3 linked regions of the Homo sapiens genome follow. The protein of the gene in region 3 interacts with the protein of the main gene of each other region in a biochemical or structural test. Each region holds a gene or a part of one and is shown on either strand. Other genes may lie near its edges.

What was found.
Region 1: the proteins of CRHR2 (region 3) and UCN3 are reported together in a solved structure, tested with the Homo sapiens proteins (one study listed by IntAct).
Region 2: the proteins of CRHR2 (region 3) and UCN2 are reported together in a solved structure, tested with the Homo sapiens proteins (one study listed by IntAct).

The regions. Positions count from the first base shown.
Region 1 is NC_000010.11:5,360,453-5,368,042, forward strand, and holds the start of UCN3 (urocortin-3 preproprotein), read left to right. Parts: upstream 1-4,513; 5' UTR 4,514-4,778; intron 4,779-7,590. UniProt on the Homo sapiens protein: Suppresses food intake, delays gastric emptying and decreases heat-induced edema. Might represent an endogenous ligand for maintaining homeostasis after stress.
Region 2 is NC_000003.12:48,561,175-48,568,418, reverse strand, and holds UCN2 (urocortin-2 preproprotein), read left to right. Parts: upstream 1-4,637; 5' UTR 4,638-4,716; intron 4,717-5,282; 5' UTR 5,283-5,294; coding exon 5,295-5,633; 3' UTR 5,634-6,701; downstream 6,702-7,244. Other genes in the region: COL7A1 (collagen alpha-1(VII) chain precursor), read left to right, coding at 249-329, 528-581, 656-709, 783-845, 1,229-1,291, 1,396-1,512, 1,682-1,759, 1,856-1,909 and 6 more. UniProt on the Homo sapiens protein: Suppresses food intake, delays gastric emptying and decreases heat-induced edema. Might represent an endogenous ligand for maintaining homeostasis after stress.
Region 3 is NC_000007.14:30,679,390-30,686,700, forward strand, and holds the start of CRHR2 (corticotropin-releasing factor receptor 2), read right to left. Parts: upstream 3,068-7,311; 5' UTR 2,892-3,067; coding exon 2,789-2,891; intron 2,652-2,788; coding exon 2,526-2,651; intron 1-2,525. UniProt on the Homo sapiens protein: G-protein coupled receptor for CRH (corticotropin-releasing factor), UCN (urocortin), UCN2 and UCN3. Has high affinity for UCN.

The sequences.
Region 1 (7,590 bases), on a different chromosome or scaffold from region 3:
AACAAACACAAGTTTGTTGGCCGGTGCATCCTGCACGCCCGCAGGATAACTCAGGGATGAGGAACTCTGAGGGTGGTTAGAACTTGGGATTCTAGAGCATCTTAGCAACAGAGCAATAAATGTTTAGAGAAGTGACAAGACAAGATAAAATACTTTGAGTTTTTAGGGGAGGCAAATTGCAGGAAGGTAAATATACGAGGAAACTAATGAAAGATAAGGGCTAGTGAGTAAGGTTTGTTAGGTAGATTTCTCTGGCTCCTCCCGGCTAATAAAACTCTAGGTTGTCTCAGGGGATTAGGTCTGTTCTTCCTGGTAGAGAGAAGGGCAGACACCTTTACAAATGCATGTCCTGCCTTGGCAAATATGGGAAGGGTAAGAGCTTTTCTATCAATAGTATCTGCTTTTCCTAAACTGTCGTCAGCTCAAAATAATCCTTATGCCATATGGTATATTTTGGAGTCACATAGTTGGCTACCCTTCATCACAGAAAAACATTTAAAAATATTTGAACTGAATGACAATGAAAATACAACCCATTAAAACTTGTGGCATGTGGCTAAACCAATGCTTAGAAGAAAAGTTATATATTAAATAGCTTTAGATGGTTAGATTGTAAAATACAGGGAAAATGAAAATGAAGACTTCATCAATACAGCAGATGGCAGAAAAGAAAAAACAATAATAAATGGAAGAAAAGGGGGATAAAACTGTGCAAATAGAAATCACAATGTAAGATGGATGGTAGAAAATAATTCAATACATCAGGAGTCAAGTATCTTTACATTAGTTTATTAAAGTCCTTGGTTAAAACACAAAGATTGTTAGATTTAATTTTTAAAATTTAAATATATACCATTTACAAAGTAATTCTGAAACAGAAAAGACTGGAAAAATACAGCAAGCAAAAGTTATCCAACGGAAAGCTGGGATAGCTATTTTGATATCAGGCAAAGCAAACTTTATGAGAAGTATTATTTAGGATGAAGAGGTTAACAGCAAGATGATAACATGAAGAATTTATATATGCCAAACACTCCAAATATATAAAACAGAAATAGACAGACTTACAAGACAAAAATTGACAATCCACAAACACAACAGGAGGTAAACACACACCCTGCTAAAAGTGAGAAATCACGAACAAAAAATCAGTCAGAGAAAATAAGGGAGAACTGAAGAAGAAAGATGATGCTAATATTCTGTGTTCACATACAACTTTATCAAGTTATTGCAATACTATCTTGACATCAACCTTGCTAAAAACAAACAGGGAAGGCACAGCAATCTACATTTTAAAATACAGGAGACAGAGGACTAGGGAATGTGGGTGTCTGTGAGAATCAAACAGCCATGCTAGCAACCCAGGCAGAAATGAAAACGGACCTTCCCGGCTCCTCAGTAAAACTTCTCTCCTATAAGTCAAGCTCTCTCACACTTTGCTAATTCTCTCGTCTATCTTTATTTTACCGCCATGCTCAGATGTTGAGGAAATAATTATGTTATTAAGTGTAAGTGCTTTGAGCACTTTGGAGAAATGAGCTTTATAAATATGAGCCATTTCTATTCACCTGAGAAGCTGATCAGCTTTTTCTTCTCACCCTGGCCCTCTTTGTACCCTCTACAGGACATTTACATCCCTGAACAACATGCTCATGCTGAGTCCACGGAAGATACCAATGACTCACAAAGGCCAGAGAGAAGTGCAAGTGTAGAAACACGCCACATTCACACATCAGCCATGGGGAGGGAGGGAAATCGTTGTTTGCTAGAAATGACACTCCAGAGGTTTTGCTACTCATCATCTTCTTGCTGCCCAAGCCTCTGTTCAGTCCCCCACCAGATGCGTCATTCAAGTTGTAAAGCAAATGTACTATTTCTTGACATTTCTAGAAAACTACACCCTGGACTGCACCCTTACAGCTGCTCATGTCCATGAAACATTCTGTGTGGAACTCCATCCAGGCTAGCAGAAGTCACTGGACAATGCCAAAGCCCACCCAGGATGGACCAGTGGGAGCCGATGAGCCTGCTCTGTGTGACGAAGGGACGGCAGGCTCCAAGAACAGCCACCAACACCAAGACCCTTCAGTCCCAGCGAGGTGGCCTCAGGGTAGGAGGATTTCTAGGAAGTTCAGAGGAAACAAGGTAAGAAAAGAAGCCAGGGTTCATCGTCTCTCTTTCTAAACCCCATACTGTAGGGAAGTGGTCCTCATGCCCCCAGAGGACATGTCTGGAAACATTTTTGATGGTCACAGACAAAGAGGGGAGTGCTACTGGCATCTAATGGGTAGATGCCCAGGATGCTGCTAAATTCCTCCAGAGCTCAGGGCAGACCCCAAGGCCAACAAGGAATTACCTCACCCAAAATGTCAACAGTGCTGAGGATGGGAAACCCTGCCCTGGGAGACCAACGTTGCCAGATCCCTGGCATCTCAGAGCCCATAAGGCAGACAGGAGAGTTAAACTCAGGTGGAAATCTACCCCTCAACCTGCATAAATTCCATTACTGCATCATTATCTGAAATGGAAAGCAGAACAAAAACCTCACAAAAACTAGAACAAATGAATGAATGAAGGAACTAATGAAGGAATGAACTAATGAATGAATGAATGAATGAACTAATGAATGAATGAATGAAGTAATGAATTTGAATTGAAACACAGATTCAGTTTCATGTTGCCTCCAATCTCAAGAGGATCCTAGCCCAGGCAGCTCTGAAAGAAGGAAGAGAGGGAGGTCCAATTTCCTATCTCCATAAAGAGACTTAAAATGGGGAGTACAGAGTCTTGAAGTCCTTCCCCACAACAGCTTTCCATTTGTTCCTCCAAATGCTCATGGGCTTTAAAGAGTTTTGGTAATTTCAGAAGACCTCTTACCTCTTCACCTGCAGGAATTCACGAGAGTGGAGCAGCCGTCTGGGAGGAGGGCTAGGGACAGCCAGCCGGTCTTGCAGGGCCCCTTGTCATCAGCTCAGCCCAGTGAAAGGAGCACTGAGCCCAGCGTCAGGCCTGGTTCTCACCTGACTCTGTCACCCTGGGCCTGTGGGGTCCCAGCAGGTCACTTTTTACAGCCTCAGCTTCCTCATCTGTGAATAAGGGGTCAACAGACCGTAGTCTCCCACATCTCCCCATTACATATGGAATAAACTCCCAACTCCGCAGGCCTTTGGAGCACCTTAGTGCAGAGCAGCCTCTGCACCCACCAACACCTCCCTCCCATCGTCCTCCTTCTCTCCCGTTCCTCTCAGCCCTGGCTCAGTCCATGCTGATCCATCCTTTCTGTCTGAAACCCCTCCTGCTCTCCTCTCCTGTCTTGAGTAGACAGGACTGCTCTCTTCTGTAGCATTTTTTACCTACCTTTCTTTCTTTCTTTCTTTTGAGATGGAGTCTCACTCTGTTGCCCAGGCTGGAGTGCAATGGCGCCATCTCAGCTCACTGCAACCCCCACCTCCCAGGTTCAAGTGATTCTCTTGCCTTGGCCTCCTGAGTAGTTGGAATTACAGGCACTCGCCACCATGCCCGGCTAATTTTTTTTGTATTCTTAGTAGAGCCGGGGTTTCACCATGTTGGCCAGGCTAGTCTTGAACTCCTGACCTCGTGATCTGCCCGCCTCGGCCTCCCACAGTGCTGGGATTACTGGCATAAGCCACCGCACCCAGCCTTCCCTACCTTTCTAAACCATGAGGCCCTGTATGGTTAGGGGCCACAACTTACTTATCTCTGAACTCGTGGGTGTCTTGGCAATACCTGGTACACAGTAAGTCCTCAATAAATATAGGATGCATAAACGAGTAAAATCCAAGCCATTTCCCACTAAAACCTCCAGACCTCTGGTGTATGATGACCTGCTGTCATAGCCCAAAGGAATGGTTGAGTTTCAGGTATCCAGAGAAAAATGCAGGTGTAGAGCTTTCCCCTCAAACGTATTAACAAATAGATGGTGCTCAGTCATTTTCGCGGCAGGCTGCAGAGAAATCTTAAACTTTCGTGTTGTTTCACTGAGGGTACGGCAGAAGAGCCCAAGGAATGTGAAAGGAGAAACTTGCATAATTAGACTTTATGTGGGGAGTAGGCACCGAGTGTGTGACAAGCACAAGGGGCTACGTGTGCGGCCAGATGACGCTGCACGGTCAGAACCCACAAAACAACACGGCAACAGGTGGATTTTAAACCCCTTCTCTGCTTTCAAAGCAGGTCCAGGCTCTACATTTACAGAAGGAGAGTTAGGGCAAGGGGAATGTGGGGGAAACTGAAATTAGTTAGAACTAAGATCAGCAATAAAATTCTTCAAAGACACTGCTTCTCACTTTACCAGGATTTTTGTTTTGTTTTGTTTTGAGTTTTTATTTCTTCTTTTTCTTTTTTGTTCTTTGCTTTTATCAATGAAGCAAGTTGCTAGGATGCAAAAGGAGTTGGGGGGTAGAAGGGCGGGGTGGGAAGCAGAGGTGGGAGGGGTCGAGGTTGGAGCACCTGTCGTCTGCATGACGTGGACGGCTGGTTCTGGTTGTATTTTAAATGAAATCTCATCCCAGCGTAGACACCACGTCTGGAATTACGATCCACCCTGTGATCTGTCACTTTTATATACACACAGGGGAGGGGACCGTTTCCATAGAGAGGGAATATCACAGCCCACTTAGGAACAATACCGGAGAAGCAGGAGCCGAGACCCCGGAGCAGCCACAAGTTCATGGGGACGTGCACGGGGCCGCCCTCCTGGCCCTGAAGCTGCGCCGGCCTCCCTGAGCGTTTCGCTGCGGAGGGAAGTCCACTCTCGGGTAAGCTTGTGGCTGGGACTGACTTATGAAGGGTAAATGTATCTGCCCTAATTTAAGCAGGAGGTGCCATGCACTAGACAGGTGTGAGAGATGAGAGCTGCTAGCGCCCCTGGGTGGAAGCCCAAGGGAGCGATGCTGAACGCCCCCCACCCAATCAGCAGAAATCAGCCCCAAAGGGACCAGGGGAAGTTTCTCAGGGAGGCACAATCACATTCCCACGTTGGTATAGAGAGACCCTCTTTCCAAAGGTGTTAGATCAGAGGCAGAAGGTGTTCACACAAATCTGTTTTCTCTGAACAGAGCACAGCTGTGCACAGGAAAGTCAGTCCTCGGAGACAGTTTACAAATGGGGATGGGGTAGGGATGCCGGGGCTAATGGGAGCCACAGGACATGACTCCACGCCGCCTGCAAAGCAGCGAGGACACCTGCACTTACTGTTTACCTGTGCCACAAACCTTCACCTGTGCCATCTCCCGTCACTCTCGGGCACACCTGTGAAGCAGGTAACGTCTCCTTCCTAGGACGCGGCAAGTGAAATGCAGGTTAAGGGATTCACCCAAGAAAAGTCAGAGGCAAGGGAGTTTCCCCAGCCAGGTCCTCTGCCACCAAAGCCCAGAGCCCTTTGCCACACTAGGAACATTGCGGGGGTGTGTGCAGATACCTACAATGGCTAACTCCTACCTGTGAAGGGGAGATGGATGTTTGATGTTTATGTTTTCTGAAAATTCCTGTTCGCAATTTCTTTCCCAAGCATAGCCACCTACCAAAAATAACAAATGTGAGATTTTTAAAACGTTTTAAGTGGTCTAGTTTCAGTTTAACTTCTTATCAGTGTTTGCAGACAAACGGAGCCCACAGGAATAGCTCTGCACTTGGCAGAGATGTGTGATCAGTACTGTTTGCCTCCTGCCTTTGCTGCTTCATGTCCTGTCCTCTCCCTGTGAGGTGCTGGGAATTGGAGGCTGACCCAGGTCCCTCACGTTTCAGTGCTTGGCTCTGCCACAGCTCCCAGAAGTAACTGTGTCTCTTTACAGCATCCTCGACAAGTGCTACTGTCACCATAGCCCAAAGGAATGGTTGAGTTTCAGGCACCCAGAGAAAAATACAGGTGTAGAGCTTTGCCCCTCAAATGTATTAATAACTAGATGGTGCCCAGTTATTTTCGTGGCAGACTGCAGAGAAATCTTAAACTTTTGTGCTGTTTCACCAAGAATATGGCAGAAGAGTCCAAGGAATGTAAAAGGAGAAACTTGCAAAATTAGACTTTATGTGGGAAGTACAGAGTATCTTTTCTTCTTTGGGGAGAGTTCCTTTTCTTTTATCCTATAAACCCTAAACAAATCTAAACAGATCCTAAAAAGAAAAGTCCTGGAAAGAAATCTGAATCTACCTTCCAGCCCCCAGCCACTCACACACTTTGATGGTGAAACCATCCAGGGTTGCAAAGAACCCTTACATTTTAAACGATCTAAAACTAAGCTCAGCACCGGGCGTCCCTATCATGTCCAATTCACAGTTCTGGGAGGTTCCTTTGCTGTGTAACTTTGCATCATTGCTGATGGTAAGGGGACACCTTTCAATACCCTCACAACCGTGTGCAGGCTAGAGCTGAGGGTTTGCAGAGAGAGAAAGGTCTGCTACCTGCAGATGCACCAAGAACAGAGCGCCACGCAGGACACTTGCTCCCTGACACTTTCACAGATTTTTCCACACCTTCAGCACCCTAGCCGTGATTACAGTATTCTTCTCTGATGGTAGACTTGGGATTTGAAAAATAAGAAGGTAATGCATTTTTTAAAAGGCACAGTATTTACAAATTGACCCCAAAAATGTGAAAAAGTAAATATAGAGGTAAAAGGGATCTCACTCCCTCTCCCCAATGCCTTGCTTTTGTAACTGAGATGAGACAGGTAGCACTTCCAGGGAACACATCCAGAGGCTAGCCCATTGCAAGGGAAAACCTGAACTTTTTCACAGGAAAATTGCAGAAAGTTACTTAGACGAGGCTGTTTCATGTTCAGAAGCCCTCATCTTTCAAGTGACTCTAGGTACACATGTATGATTTCATAATTAAAAAACAAAACCAAAAAAGTATGCCATATAAAAGATTTTTTCCTCTGTGATACGTAACAACATGATTTGCAGAGAGAATGTACATCCATGAAAGAATTTAAAAGAGGTTGTTTTGCTTTGGAAAATAAATTGATTTAATTAAGTGCCTGAATACTAATCTGAATTTCAATTCATTCAACAAATATTGATTGAGAATATGATTTAGTATAAGGCACTATTGGCCATGTCAGGCTTTTCCAAGCATCCTGAGTCACTGCTGAGAGCCAAATGACCCAGAGGGATAGTGAAAGGCTTGGCATATTTAGCAGAAATGGAGACACCAAAGAAATATAACACCCAAAGTGTCTTTAAGGGGTGGAGATAGACAGGTAAACTCAAGTGTTGATTTACACTAAAGGGCCAGTCCGTGTGAGCAGAGCCCCAAGATGGGCTTGAACTCAGAAAGTAGTCTGAGTTCTCAGTAATATTTGCAATTATTCTGCAAAGTTCTAAGTGCTTGAGGGTAAATGCAGAATGCTGCCCCGGGAAGGAAATAGAAAGGAGCAGGGAGGGGTTCCCTGGGCTGGGGTGCAGGGTTTGAGTGAGGAAGCAAAATAAACAAATGGGGTGGTGGGGCAGTGGGGAGAGAGCCATGTGGAACCCACAGAGGGAGGCCTGAGGGTAGCTCCAGGGTTGCATCTCAGCACCCTCTAATTTTTTTAATTTATTTATTTTTTTGAGACAGAGTCTCACTCTTTC
Region 2 (7,244 bases), on a different chromosome or scaffold from region 3:
TTTTGACCTTATAGTGACCCAGTGCTCTCATGGTGTCCTCATGTCACCCAGGGTCCCCCACCTCCACAGTAGCCGCCTATGATGGTGTCCCCTGCCTATGGTGACCCTTGTCCCCATGGCAAGCCCCAGTGGCTCTGGCCTCCAGAGGTGACTCCCACCCCATGGTGTTCCCTACCCACTATCCAGGGCGATTCTCTTTGGTCCCTCACTGACCTCCTCTGACCTCACATGGACCCTCTCCCTGCTAGGGATCCCCAGGAAAGGATGGAGTGCCTGGTATCCGAGGAGAAAAAGGAGATGTTGGCTTCATGGGTCCCCGGGGCCTCAAGGTAGGAAAGAAACAAGATTGGTTTTTTTCTGGTCAGGAAGGCCTAATGTTGAAGGGCGAGGGACCTGGGGTCAGATATTAGGGCACTGGGTCAGAGGTTGGAGTAGCTGAGGCCTGTTTGGAGAGTTAGTTTCAGGGTGAAGGGGGTCACAGAGTGAGGTGTCTGGGAATCACTTCTTCATCTGCTTTTCTCCCTCAGGGTGAACGGGGAGTGAAGGGAGCCTGTGGCCTTGATGGAGAGAAGGGAGACAAGGTACAGAGGGGATGGGGGCTGGGGGGCTACGTGGCCTGGGGCCTAAGGCTCACCCCACTGCCTGATGCCTGCAGGGAGAAGCTGGTCCCCCAGGCCGCCCCGGGCTGGCAGGACACAAAGGAGAGATGGTGAGTGTGGGCACGCTCAGAATGAGGGGGCCACGGGTGGACGGGGGCCAAGTTCATGTCTTTTTTTCTCCAGGGGGAGCCTGGTGTGCCGGGCCAGTCGGGGGCCCCTGGCAAGGAGGGCCTGATCGGTCCCAAGGTACAGGGTCTGTGGACAGTGGACATGACAGGGAGTCAGGATGGGGCAGGGAAGCTCATGGTCGGGTCATGGGGGTGTAGGGACAAGGAAGGCTGTAGAGGGTTGGGACTTTGGGGGCTGAAGTGGGGCTGGTCTCGAGGTGTCAAGGTGGGTTGGGGTCACAGTGGAGTTAGGATGAAAGCATGGGAGGTGGAGGGGGCATGTGCATCAGGGCAGGGGGCTATAGTGGAGTTGGAGTCATGGGGATCACATCTGGTTGGCTCACAGGTGCTTGGGTTACAGAAGGTTTGGGCATTAGGCCAGGGAGCTCATGGGAGTTCAGGGAGGTTCCAGAGCTGAGGGAGGTCAGGGCAGAAGGTCTCTCATGCTTCTTCTGTTCCCAGGGTGACCGAGGCTTTGACGGGCAGCCAGGCCCCAAGGGTGACCAGGGCGAGAAAGGGGAGCGGGTGAGTTGAAGCCATGGTCATGGTGAATTGAGGGGAGCGTGCACTTTGGGAGAGGGTCCATCTCTGGGGCCTCTGATTACTGACTCTGTCCTATATCTCCCCAGGGAACCCCAGGAATTGGGGGCTTCCCAGGCCCCAGTGGAAATGATGGCTCTGCTGGTCCCCCAGGGCCACCTGGCAGTGTTGGTCCCAGAGGCCCCGAAGGACTTCAGGGCCAGAAGGTAAGGGGCCCCAGCTCTGACTCCTGATCCCTGAACCTTCCCTACCCTTCCAACCTCATAACCATCTTCCAGCCTGCCTGCCCCAACCTCTGAAGCTGTGGCCCCCAACCTGCCTGACTCTGATCCCCACTGCCTCTGACCCTGCTCACTTGGTCCCTGTGTCTGACAGGGTGAGCGAGGTCCCCCCGGAGAGAGAGTGGTGGGGGCTCCTGGGGTCCCTGGAGCTCCTGGCGAGAGAGGGGAGCAGGTGAGTAGGGATTCCAAGGCTTGGGTCAGAGATCGGGGTGACTTCTGTTGTCCCTGAGGTCAGAGGTCACAGCCTGGTCCCATCTGTTGCACATAGGGGCGGCCAGGGCCTGCCGGTCCTCGAGGCGAGAAGGGAGAAGCTGCACTGACGGTGAGTGTGGGCCTGGATGGGCCTGGGAGGGCCTGGGTGGGCCTGGGTGGGCTGGGGCCCTACCTCCCTCACCCAGCACCCTGACCCCTGGGCCCTGGCTCCATGCAGTCTCACCATAGTCCCTGTATTATGTGCCCTATGTCCTTCCTGTGGGCCATGGGTTCTTTATGGTCCCTGTGGTCTTCTGCTCCCAGGAGGATGACATCCGGGGCTTTGTGCGCCAAGAGATGAGTCAGCACTGTGGTGAGTGGTGCCCAGCCCGCAGTCTCCCACTCCACCCCAGCACCCTAGGCAAGGGCAGGCAGGCCCCTAGAACTTACAGGGCAAGCAGTCAAGAAGATGGGGGGATGGATGGATACACAGAAGGACACATGTGCTGCAGGACTGACACATGACATGTGTCCCCAGTGGAGGGAGACACACAGGCAGATGAGGATTGCCATGCAGTGCTCTCAGATGTCCAGCTTGGCTGTGTGGGGAGTGGGATGATGGTGGGAGCAGAGCTGGTCCCCTTGGGCCTGACCTGGACCCGGTGGGAGGGGCATCAGAGTGAAGCTGTCTCTTCCCGTCTCTGTCTGCACCACCTGCCTGTTTCTGTGTCTGGCCTGCTTCTGTCTCTTGCCTTTTGTTGGCCTGTTCCCAACTTCCCTCTCCTCTGCCTTCTTCTCTTTTTCCATCTCTCTATCTACCTCCCACCCTCTCTCTTCCTCTCTCTCCTGTTACCCTCTCCTGCTATCTCTTTGTGTATCTCTACCCCTCTGCCTGTGTGTCTCTGTCTGTCTCTCCATCTTCCCATCCTTCTCTCTGTCATTGTCTCTCTATCCCTCTCTGCCCCCTCTAGCCTGCCAGGGCCAGTTCATCGCATCTGGATCACGTGAGTAGTTTTCTACTCCCAGAACTTTCTTCACCCCAGGCCCTGCCCTGCCTATCAACTGGGGTCCTCTCAGGGGGGTTGGCTGGGATGGCTGCCCATGGTGACTTCAGGGCCCTGAGGCCCCTGCTCTTGGCTCCAGGACCCCTCCCTAGTTATGCTGCAGACACTGCCGGCTCCCAGCTCCATGCTGTGCCTGTGCTCCGCGTCTCTCATGCAGAGGAGGAAGGTGAGGACAGCTGAACCCGTGGGGCAGCTATGGGTGGGGCCGAGACACGCACATGGGTGTCCATGAATGCAGGGCACACGCCAAGCACGTAGGGTCTGCATGCAGGGCACACGCATGGGCACTGTGTGCACACAGTGGAAATCAGTGCTGCCCACCTTGCCCCGGGGCCAGCAGCCACTGCTCCCAGCACACCCTGCCCTACCTGCAGAGCGGGTACCCCCTGAGGATGATGAGTACTCTGAATACTCCGAGTATTCTGTGGAGGAGTACCAGGACCCTGAAGCTCCTTGGGATAGTGATGGTGAGAATGGGGGGCTGCCAGCGGGGTCTGGGGAGGGGCAGGCAGGGCTGAGCCCTGCTGACCTCCCCCTGACCTTTCAACCCTCTCTGATTCCCACAAACCCTGCTGACTTGACCCCATTGGCCCAGACCCCTGTTCCCTGCCACTGGATGAGGGCTCCTGCACTGCCTACACCCTGCGCTGGTACCATCGGGCTGTGACAGGCAGCACAGAGGCCTGTCACCCTTTTGTCTATGGTGGCTGTGGAGGGAATGCCAACCGTTTTGGGACCCGTGAGGCCTGCGAGCGCCGCTGCCCACCCCGGGTGGTCCAGAGCCAGGGGACAGGTATGGGCTGAGCCCCCACCGTGGGGAACTGGGCACTGAGCCTGCCTGGATCGGGTTCTGGGGGAGGAGTCCTTGGGCCAGGGTTCCAGGTCAGGGTCCTGGAGGAGACGCTCCCTCGCAGTAGGGGACCTGGGGCAGACGCCCAGACCAAAGAGCTGAATATAGAGCCCCAGCCGTGGAGCCCCCAGTAGGGTCCCCTTCCATGTTCCCTCCTTTAAAGACCTAAGTATGGACCCCTCTGAGGTCAGAGCCCCCACTTCCTGTTGTAGCCTCCGCTCCCTCCCCTTGGCGGTGCCTCTGCCTGAGCGTCTCCGGGGAAGGTCAGATGGCTGACGACCGTTTCCAACCTGTCCTCACCAGGTACTGCCCAGGACTGAGGCCCAGATAATGAGCTGAGATTCAGCATCCCCTGGAGGAGTCGGGGTCTCAGCAGAACCCCACTGTCCCTCCCCTTGGTGCTAGAGGCTTGTGTGCACGTGAGCGTGCGTGTGCACGTCCGTTATTTCAGTGACTTGGTCCCGTGGGTCTAGCCTTCCCCCCTGTGGACAAACCCCCATTGTGGCTCCTGCCACCCTGGCAGATGACTCACTGTGGGGGGGTGGCTGTGGGCAGTGAGCGGATGTGACTGGCGTCTGACCCGCCCCTTGACCCAAGCCTGTGATGACATGGTGCTGATTCTGGGGGGCATTAAAGCTGCTGTTTTAAAAGGCTCCTGTTGTGACTGTTTGGGAAGATGGGGGGTTTCAAGGGGGAAGGTTTTCCTTGGGGGGTTGGTATTATTCTGCATGGGTACAGAGTCCCTCTGCCCAGTCCTGGTCACTGTCTTGTGATTCTCAGTCCCCAACTTGTCCCCGGAAAAGAGTAGATAGGGTGGGGGCTAAGGACACCCCCGGGAGGGATGAGTCATAGGTGGGGGGCTGCCTCATGCCAGGAAGCATGTACCAGCTCCCACCCCAGGGGGCTGAGGGAGATAAATGGGCCCTGAAGCGGGGTAGAGGGTCAGACCACAGGACAGTAGTGCCTGGCCCCAGCCCCAGGCAGCCACAGCAGGCTGCCTTACCCCAGAAGCAGCTGGTGGCGGTAGGACTGGGTTGGGTCGGGATGGGAAGGGTCTTGGAGGTTGAGTGGATGTGGGGTTTGGCTTTATGGAGGGCTTGGACCCAGGGGACTCTGGGATCTCTGGCTGCTTTTCTGCCTCTGAGATCCGATTCCTGCCCTTCTGTTTCCTGGATCAGCTGCAAGCTCTCCTGCTGAGAACCGCCTGCCCTCCTGTGGACTCTGTGTTTCTGTCTGAATCTTTCTTTCCATCATGCTGTCTGTCTCTGGGATGGTTTCTGTCTGTCTTTTTCTTCTAGTCTCCATTTTGCTCTGCCTCCATCTCCTTCATCTCCCTCTCTTGCTGTCCCTCTGTCTCTGGATTTCTTTGTTTCTTTTTTTCTGTCTTGCTTTCTGCCTCTTTGTCTCATTCTGGCTCTCCTCTTGTCTCCCCTTCTCTGTCTCTGGCCTGGCCTGGCCTCTCTAACCCCTTTCTCGGTGTCTTCCTCTCTCTCCATCCCCCGCTCTGTCACTCTGCCCTTGCCATCTGTCTCTGTCCATGGACCCCAGTTGACCAGAGCCCCTGCCCTGAGCCCATTTTCTCCTTGCAGCCTGACCTCACGATGACCAGGTGTGCTCTGCTGTTGCTGATGGTCCTGATGTTGGGCAGAGTCCTGGTTGTCCCAGTGACCCCTATCCCAACCTTCCAGCTCCGCCCTCAGAATTCTCCCCAGACCACTCCCCGACCTGCGGCCTCAGAGAGCCCCTCAGCTGCTCCCACATGGCCGTGGGCTGCCCAGAGCCACTGCAGCCCCACCCGCCACCCTGGCTCGCGCATTGTCCTATCGCTGGATGTCCCCATCGGCCTCTTGCAGATCTTACTGGAGCAAGCCCGGGCCAGGGCTGCCAGGGAGCAGGCCACCACCAACGCCCGCATCCTGGCCCGTGTCGGCCACTGCTGAGCCTGAGAGAGGGGGTCACAGTGATAGGGCCACCCTGGATGGGAAGACCTGGAGGGCAGCCACACAGCTGGACGGATGCTGCCACATCTGGGCATACAGTGTCTGGACGCTGCCACATCTGGGCATACAGTGTCTGGACACTGCCACATGGAGCCACTGTCATGCAGGTCATATCAGATCTGAGTGCCCCACAGAGTCACAGTGTGTCTGGACAGCCTGGACATTGGACATTGCTAAGTTGGGTCACTGCCACATGGAGTCTTGCCATGCCTGTGTGCCCCACAGACCTAATATATGTCCGGACAGCTTGGATGCTGCCACGTAAGGTCACTGCTGTGGCGAGTCTTGCTATGTCTGGGTGCCCCATAGTCACAGAACACCTGGACACCGCCACATGCAGTCATCATCATGTTACTTTCAGGAGCCTCAACACGAGAGCTCAACACTGCCTCCGACCAGTCCCTCTGAGGCCCACAGGTCTGTCATCCCATAGGCCACCACACAGAGAAATGCTGGCTGAGGGTCACTTGCTTGCTCTGTGCCCCATGAGGCAGCACCTGCCCCAGATGGACGGGGCTGTGAGGGGTGTCTCCAGGCACAAAGGCCCGAACACAGGAAGCCTGTGACCATGGCAGCCTTGTCTTATGGGCGCATATGTGCGTGTGTGGCTGAGTCTCTGACAGCTGTGAGTGTGTGTGAGCAGGGTAAGGGTACGTGAGGGGTCTGAGAGGAGTGGGTGCTTGTCCCCCAAACCTGCATGAAGCAAGAACAACTCCTGGCCAGGCCCTGTCCTCCCCACGTACCCCTGCATCCCCAGCCTCGACCCAGGGACATGCAGGGCTCACAGGAGACAGGGCTCAGGCTGCCGGAGCTCCAACCAAACTCTGTCCCACTTCACGCACGGACTGTCCTGGGCAAAGGTGTTCACCTTTCCGAGCCTCGGTTTCCTTATCTGTAAAGCAAAGCGACACCAGCAAGCCTGTGAGCATTGTGTATATAGCAGACATGGAGGTCCTGCAGCAGGAGGTGCTCAATAAACACAAAGCGACTGAAGGATGGGACCAGCAAGCCTGTGAGCATTGTGTATGTAGCAGACATGGAGGTCCTGCAGCAGGAGGTGCTCAATAAACACAAAGCGACTGAAGGATGGGATGTGCGAGAATCCCAGTGGTGTGCACCCAGGCCGCGACACATGGTGGGTGAGTCATACCTGGCTTCTCTGCCTTCCTCCCTAGCTCCCCGGTTAACTGACCTGGTCCCTTGGTTTGGAAGGACTAGGTTTTGCCTGATTTCACAGCCCAACTCCATTGCTGGGCCAGAGACAGAACTGACTTTCCAGGCAGTGTGGACGGGCTTGCCCGCAGAGGGGGCAGGCACTCTGGGCTGTGCAGACAACTCTAGGTGGACATGAAGGCAGACGCTGGGTGGCATGGGCAGCTCTGGCGGGAGAGGGAGACTGTACTGGCCACAGCGTGGCCGGCTGACTGGAGTGGGGGCACTGGCGCTGCCCTCACAGTTGTAAGCAGCCCTGTGGGGGCGGGCCTACAGTGGGCTGGGGAGGCGGGGCTGCAGGAGCCGCAGGAGTCGCTTCTCTCTCTTCAGAGTGCTAGG
Region 3 (7,311 bases):
GAGACTCAGTGTTCTTGCCTGCAATATGGGCATAAAAGCAGTATGTATCTCAGAGGGAGTGTGGGCGAGTGGGATTATGGATGCCTGAGATATGGATACAAAGCTCTCTCAGTGGTAGCTGGCACCTGGAAAATGATCAACACTTAGCTTTGTGGCAGATTCTCTGTGCTCAGCTGAGTTGAAAAATCGCAGAGACTAATATCTAAACTGCTATCCCCACCCGGGCGATTCCTGCTCTCTAAGGAATGAGGCTTCAATGCGGGTTTGGCTATAGCATAACAAAATTGGGGCAGGAAGTGGAGCCTGAACGCTCCTGTTCTTCCCCTAGGCTTCTCGTGGAGGTTTCTCCCTCTGTCATTCTTTTTAAAGGAAGGATCCCAAGGAAAAGGCAAACAGAGAAGCAGGAAGCAGCACTGATGTGAAGAAAGGGGAGGAGGGAAATCAATCATGCATTTCCACAGCCATTAGCAGCCTCTGCTCTTCCCACCTAGGCTGACCTCACACCCCAGGTGCTGGTTAGTGGTAAGTGCTCCCCACCCTCCACAAGCTCCTCTCATTCTCCAGCAGTTGCAGTGCAGGCAGCACTTTGGTCTAAATGAAGAAAATTGTTCATTAGATACCAGGGGCTAATTGGCCCTACTTTTACCAGCCTGGGTGGTGCCCCAACCTTTTATCAGCTTCTCATTAGACTTAATTGATATGAATGGCCTGATATGTGCTGTCTGCAGCACCTTTGGGAAGTCTTCCTTGTCACCCCGCCCCCACACCCCAATCCCATAGACCTTGTGCTTCCCCCCTAATTAGGGCATTCATCATTCTGTTCTTTTTGTCTGTTGCAATTGTGAGTGAGAGCCTCAATACAGTGCCTGTGCAGTGGCTGGCACATAGTGGGTATTCCACAAATTGACTGAGTATTACTGTACTCAGCTTGGCTATGAAGAAGAGACCCAGGCCCTGGGAAGGGGGGGCCCCCAGGCTGGTCGGGGAGAACAAGGCATAGCCCAGGCTGGGGTAAGAACGAAAGCAGAGCTCCCTGAGGTTCACAGGCTGTGGGCTGAGATGCTCCATCACCCCACTTTACCCTGGATGGCCCTTAATCTCCGGGCCCAGTCTGAATCAGGCATGCTGATCTCCATTGCCCCACCCCACACAGCTCACGGAATCCTAAAAATACAGTTTTATAAGGTCAGGACTAGGAAGGCACAGGGAAATCATTCCTTCTGCTTGCACACCTCCTAGCTTGGGGATCTTACTTCCTTCTAGGGAGATCTGTTTTAATCATGGATGGGAAGCATGTGCTCCCTGGGCCCACCAGAGCCCTCAGCTGGTGCAGCCAGGAGAGTGCGGCTTGGCATCAGGTGCAGGTACATCTCTCTTGCCTTCTAACCATCTCTCATGGCAAAGCCCTCAGCCTCAGCTTCTGAAAGCTTGTGTGTGTGTGTGTGTGTGTGTGTGTGTGTGTGTGTATGTGTGGTGGAGGTGGAGCTGGGCTACCAATCAGACACAGACACTCTGAGGATGTTTCCAGGATGAGAGGCTTCAGACAAACAATCCAGATAGGGTCTCAGCGTGCTTGACAACTGGGGTCCGGCTGGAGATATCAGGGGGGTTCTAGGTGGGGCAGTGATTGCTGCCCCCACAGCCTCCCGCAGACCACACACCTGGCTCCCATCCCATGTTCCACAGGGCACAGACAGGCACCTACCCACACGCACACACCCAGAACCCACACTGAACGACCCCACCTGGAGGCTGTGTAACTCCAGCAACCTCTACTGCCCTTTTCCCCAGAGCCTCAAGCCAGTCCATGATTTGCCAGGAGGAAGGCAGGCACAGGTTGTTCTCCTTGAGAGATGGTGTTGGGGTGCTGATTCAGACACCACTCATTATGGGGGCGCAGGAATAATGCTGCCCACAGCCCCTGACTCAGCCCAGCAGGTCAGTCCTGGGACCTCGGATTAGGGAAGATGCAACACCCCGCACCCTCTGGCTTAGCAGAACCTACGCCTGCATGTCCTCCCCACGAAACATGCGCTCGCCCCAGCCCTCCTGCCTCCTACCCTCCTCCTCCCCTCTGGTAGTAGGGTCTGGTCACTGCACTCACTCTGGGGGATTTGGGACTTAGCATATCCGCCCTCCTGGGATAGGTCCCCCTCCTGGGCAGGGGAAGCATTGTCTAAACAATGAAGCCCTAATGGGGAACTTCAGGCAACGGGAACCTACAATGAGGGAAGGAGGTTTACACTCCAAGAGGAGGAAGTATTTCCTTCTCCCCTTTTTGGGCTGTCACCGCATGGAGCACGGGAATTGTGGGCAAATCACTGGCTTACTGAGATTAGACGCTGTATTGGGGGTAGAAGCAGAAGGCGCGCCCCCAACACTGTAAGGGGTCCTTAACGCCCGCGGTCCGCGGTACCGCGGCCGTCAGCAGCTTTGTACCGCTGGGTCCGGAATCCTCTTTACTCCCTAAACCGCCTTCTCAGGAGGCCGGTGTAGAGCAGGCAGCGAGGGCCGGGGGCACTCACGGGTCGTGTTGTACTTGACGCCGTTGAAGTACTCGGGGCACGGCCTCTCCACGAGGGCTCCGGCAGCGCTGCGGGGCCAGCACGTTCCGATCTGGTCCAAGGTCGTGTTGCAGTAGGAGTAGGGACCTGGCGGCGGGAGAGAGCGCAGTAGGGCTCAGAGGGGCCCGCAGGGACGCGGGGCTCTCGGAGCGCGGGGTCAGGGGCGCACCCAGCGCGCGAGAGAAGGAGCCCGCGCAGCCTCCGACCGCTCGCCTCCCGCCTACCCTCGGGGTCCAGGGGTGGCCCCCAGCCGTCCAAGAGCAGCTCTTCAGCCAGCGCCAGGCTGCAGTTGGCCTCCAGCAGGCTGTGGAGCAGTGCCGCGTCCATCGCGTCCCGCAGCCGCGTGCGGAGAGGGAGTGGGAGTGCGCGCCCGGCGTGACTGCGAGGGAGTGGACGCGAGAGTGAGCGGCCGAGAGGGCGCGGGGTCCTGGCCCCCGCCAGCCCAGCCCCGATCTCCCGGGCAGCCTTTGGGCGCCACCTCCGGTCGCCCAGAGCTGTCAAGTGGGGACCTTCCCGGAGAGGAGCCGCCGAGTGCACGGAGCTGCGGGTACAGCCGCTCCGCCGCGGCCAATGGCTGCGCCGGGGGGCGGGGCCGGGCGGCTCCTCTCGGAGGGGCTCAGTCTCCAGCCCCCGGGCCCTCCACCCTGCCCAAAGTACGGCTTCTCAGTTCGCAGCTCTCTTCCACTCGCGGCGTCCAGAGGAGGGCGGTGGGCTGGAGAGCGTGGGCCTGGGGTGACGGAATGCTCTGTGCGGGGATCGCAGGCCCCCGAGCTGCAGGGGGCAGCAAAGCGCGCCCACCTGCCCGCCTGCCCGAGGAGAACACCGCAGCTCTGCTAATCGAGGGACAGCCGCAACCCAAAGTTCGGCAGCTTTCCGCCTGAGCTTCCCCTCCCTGAGCGAGGACACTGGAGGGAGGCAGAGACGGAGAGCCCATGGGCAGATCTGCATCCTCCAAAAGCCTCCATAGCCTCTGGGAAGGAAATGTATCGAGGAGGCCTGGAGGGAAGCAGGGAGACACCCATGAGTCTAATGAGATCAAGTGGCCTGAGTGGGTTGAAGTCCTTGGATCAGACCGTGGAAGCTGGAATGGAGAGAGATTTCGGAGGGGCAGCCAGACCTGGTGAGGAGGAACTGGAGTGGGTGGCTGGTTTTAAGTAGGAGCCCAGAGGCAGGGATAACATCAGGTCTCCTGCTTGAGTGACTGGGTGGCCATTTAATCAGATGGAGTAAGTCTAGGGGAGAAATTGGCTGAAATTATCTGGAAGGCTTTATACACCCAGTTGTTAGTGCCTTGGGCACCAGAAAGAATAAAGGAAGAAGTGAGAATGTGTCTCTCTTCCTCAAGGCTTGGGCAGGGCTTCACCTGACCCTGGTTTCCACACCAGTAGCGGGGCAGGGGCGGGGAGAATCAGGCCCCACAGCAGGTGTGGAGGAGCTGGAAACCTCCCCAGAGAACTTGCCCAGGCCCCCCACCCCACCCTGGCCCAGAATGCCTCCTTGGTGATCTGCTGTGGCTGCACCCTCAGAGTGCCCAGGGCGGGCCTGCTGTGTCTGCCAGCTGAGTGGGGCATTGGGCTCGGGAAGCAGGGCCTGGGGTAAGGCATGCTTCCACTCAGGCTGCATTTTGGTCCAGCCTCTGACTCTGCTCTCCCTGCCATGGTACCCCAGGCAGGATGCTTGCCCTCTCTTCTGGAGCTTTCTCCATCAGTGAAATCTTCCCCGAGGCCCCTCTCAGCTCTGAGACTCTCTGGTTCTGAGTTATGAGACGGAGAGTCTGGGGAAGACATACATGTGTGTTGTGTGTTGTTTGTTTCTATCTTTAGAGGGCAAGGAGAGCTGGAACCTAGTCTCAGAAACCAGTCCTGTTCCCCTGCCATCCTCCACATAAACCTAAGCTGCTAGGAAAGGCTGAAACCACCATGAACTAGCACCATGCCCTGGGCAGAGAGAGGCAAAGCAGCAGGCAGGCTGCTTTTGTGTGCTCCGCTCTCACCAGCCTCCATATTAATGGTGCTGTCACTGCCCAGGCAGAGCGAGTGAGACCACACTAAGACCAGGGCTGAGCCCTGGAATCTCTCCAGGGCCTGCTGACTGGCAGGAACAAGATGCTGAGCAGCCAGCCAGGTCTACCCTCTGCCTCCTGAATGGACAGTGAGAGCCCAGGCTCAGCTCTGGGCAGCTGCAGAGGTAGAGGTTCCTTGGTCTTCATATTATCCAGTGCCAGGAGCAGGGGAGGACCTAGGCAGAGTCCTACCCTCCGCTCCTAGACTGAGCCCTGTTACCCAGGGTCCCACACAGGCCAGAGGGTGGCTGGCCAGGTCAGCCCATGTATTCACAGGGCAATAGTGTCCCTCATATACAAGGGATAGCCCTTCACACAGCACGGTGCAGCACAGAGGAAGGGAGAAATCCTAAGCCAAGCTTAAGTTATTATCCTTGTTCATTACTGCAGCCACCACCTAGGTGGTGCCTAAAGCACCTATAGATGCAGCTATGTCAAGAGGTGGTGTGCTCCCAATGACCAGAGGCCAGGGACTTCTCATCTCATGCAGATTTCTGCAGAACAGAGGGTTGGCCTGGGTGAACTGGATTGCTCTTAACTGGGAGAGCTCACATACCAAAGATTCTTCTGGGAAGTGACCATTTCAGTGGCAGAGTCAAAGGCTGTTCTGCATCCTGAATGAGCAGTTGGGGTCTGAGCACATACCCACAGACCCACAGACCCGAGGTCCCCTGGATGTGGGGCCATTTCTTCATGGATCTTATTATTATAGGCACAGTTGTCATTCGAGATGTGACAGAGGGAAAACTAGAAAAGGTAGCAGTTTGGGAACAAATTGATTTTACAGCTCACTTTAGTGTCTGCAAACAGGCAAATGAGGAAGAAATTGGGAAGAGCCCCAAAATTCCCTCAATTTTACTAAATCCAAGTACAAACAAACAAAGACAGGGGCATTTTTGCTAACTAAAGAAGCAGAGGTAGATTAGAGGCTTTGGGATAGTGATGGGTTCCCAGCGCTGCAGGCCAGCCCCATCCCAGCTGGAGGCCAGGAATTAGGGGATAAGTATTTGGAACAGTTTGTGTGTCCCCAAGCTGTTGGGGACAGGTTGGCAAATAGGTTCAGGGAAGTGTGACAGGTACTTTGGAAGACCCCTGTGTACCATGAGCAGCAGAGTAAGGCAGGTGCCTCTGGTGCCCTGCATCCCATCCCATGGCCCACCTCTGATGTCAGCTGCAGCAGCAGTGGACAGTTCCAGGCCAGCTCAGACACACTTGCAAAGCCTAATACATGGCATCAAACAGGCATGTAGGCACAACAGAATCACACACAGAGCCACAGTTATGCATCTTCACCATGCACACACATTCTCTCTCTAATTCATCCCCTACCACTCAAATGTCAGCTGGAAAACAGGATTTAAAGGGACAGGATGCATCTTTGCTTCTCTAAGGGACTGTCCTTGGTTAGACTACATAGAGAGGGAGTCTATTCAGGCACAGCTGGAATAGTCGTGGTGTTTCCTGGGAATTACGACGGGGTTGCTGAGGGCACAGAGGTTCCAGAGGGGCCTGAAGGTGCTGCACTTTTGCCCTGTAGCACTGGAGACAGGGGTCCCAGGCCAGGCACCCCCTCCTCACCCTATCCTACTCCACTGCAGGACAGAGGAATTGGCCTGGTGTCTTCATGTCAAACCATGGGACTAAGCTGTGGGGACAGAAAGGACTCTCAGTGACATCCAATCCCACATTCTTGTTTTACAGATGGACAATAGGATTCCCAGACAAGCAAAAGAGGTTTCCCTCCCTTACTTCTCCCAGGCCATCCTCATCTCTGCAGCAGCCCAAATGGGCTCCCTGTCTCCTCATGGCAGATAAAACGATGTTTTATAATTACGATCCTGTCACTCTTCCTCATAGGAGTGCCGCCAACCCATTGCCCTTGAGATGGAGACCACCTCTTTGGTATTGCAAAGAAGGTCCTTCGTAATCATCTATCCCTCATCCTCACCCTTCTGCTCCATTTGAAAGGCCCTCCAGAACAACATGTCATTCCTGGGAACCATCTTTGGTATTGCAAAGAAGGTTCTTCATGATCATCGTCCCCCATCCTCACCCTCCTGCTTCATTTGAAAGGCCCTCCAGAACAATGTGTCACTACCAGAAACCATTCGCTATCTCTGTTCCTTGTTTGTATTTCTGCACTGGAAATGGCCTTACAGCTCCACACTCATCCTTCAGACATGCAGCTCCTTGGTGACCCCATCTGCTGGGTGCTGGCCTATGTCACATCCAGGTTGCTTTTTATTCATTGTCTCATCTACCAGCCCATGCCTCCCCAAGGGCAGGGCTGGTCCTGGTTCACTAACCCATCCCCAGCACCCATTGGAATGCTCTAGACTTCAGCCCAGTGAGTCACTAAGAAAGGACAGATACCTTGGCAGAAGAGCTGAGGAAAGCCCAGGTCCCTGTCTTCAGGCCAAGGCTCTCTTCCCATTTGACCAACCCTGGCATATGTGTGTGTGTTGCATTGAGGAATTATTTCAAGGTATCTTTGAATCCATTCGGATTCTTGGCCAGGTGCAGTGGCTCACACCCATAATCTCAGCACTTGGGGAAGCCAAGGTAGGCAGATTGCTTGAGCACAGGAATTCAAGACCAGCCTACAAAAAATAATAAAAAATAAATAAATAGTCCATTTGGATTTTTATATCATCTATGGATAGGATAAATAATATGCCTCATAAT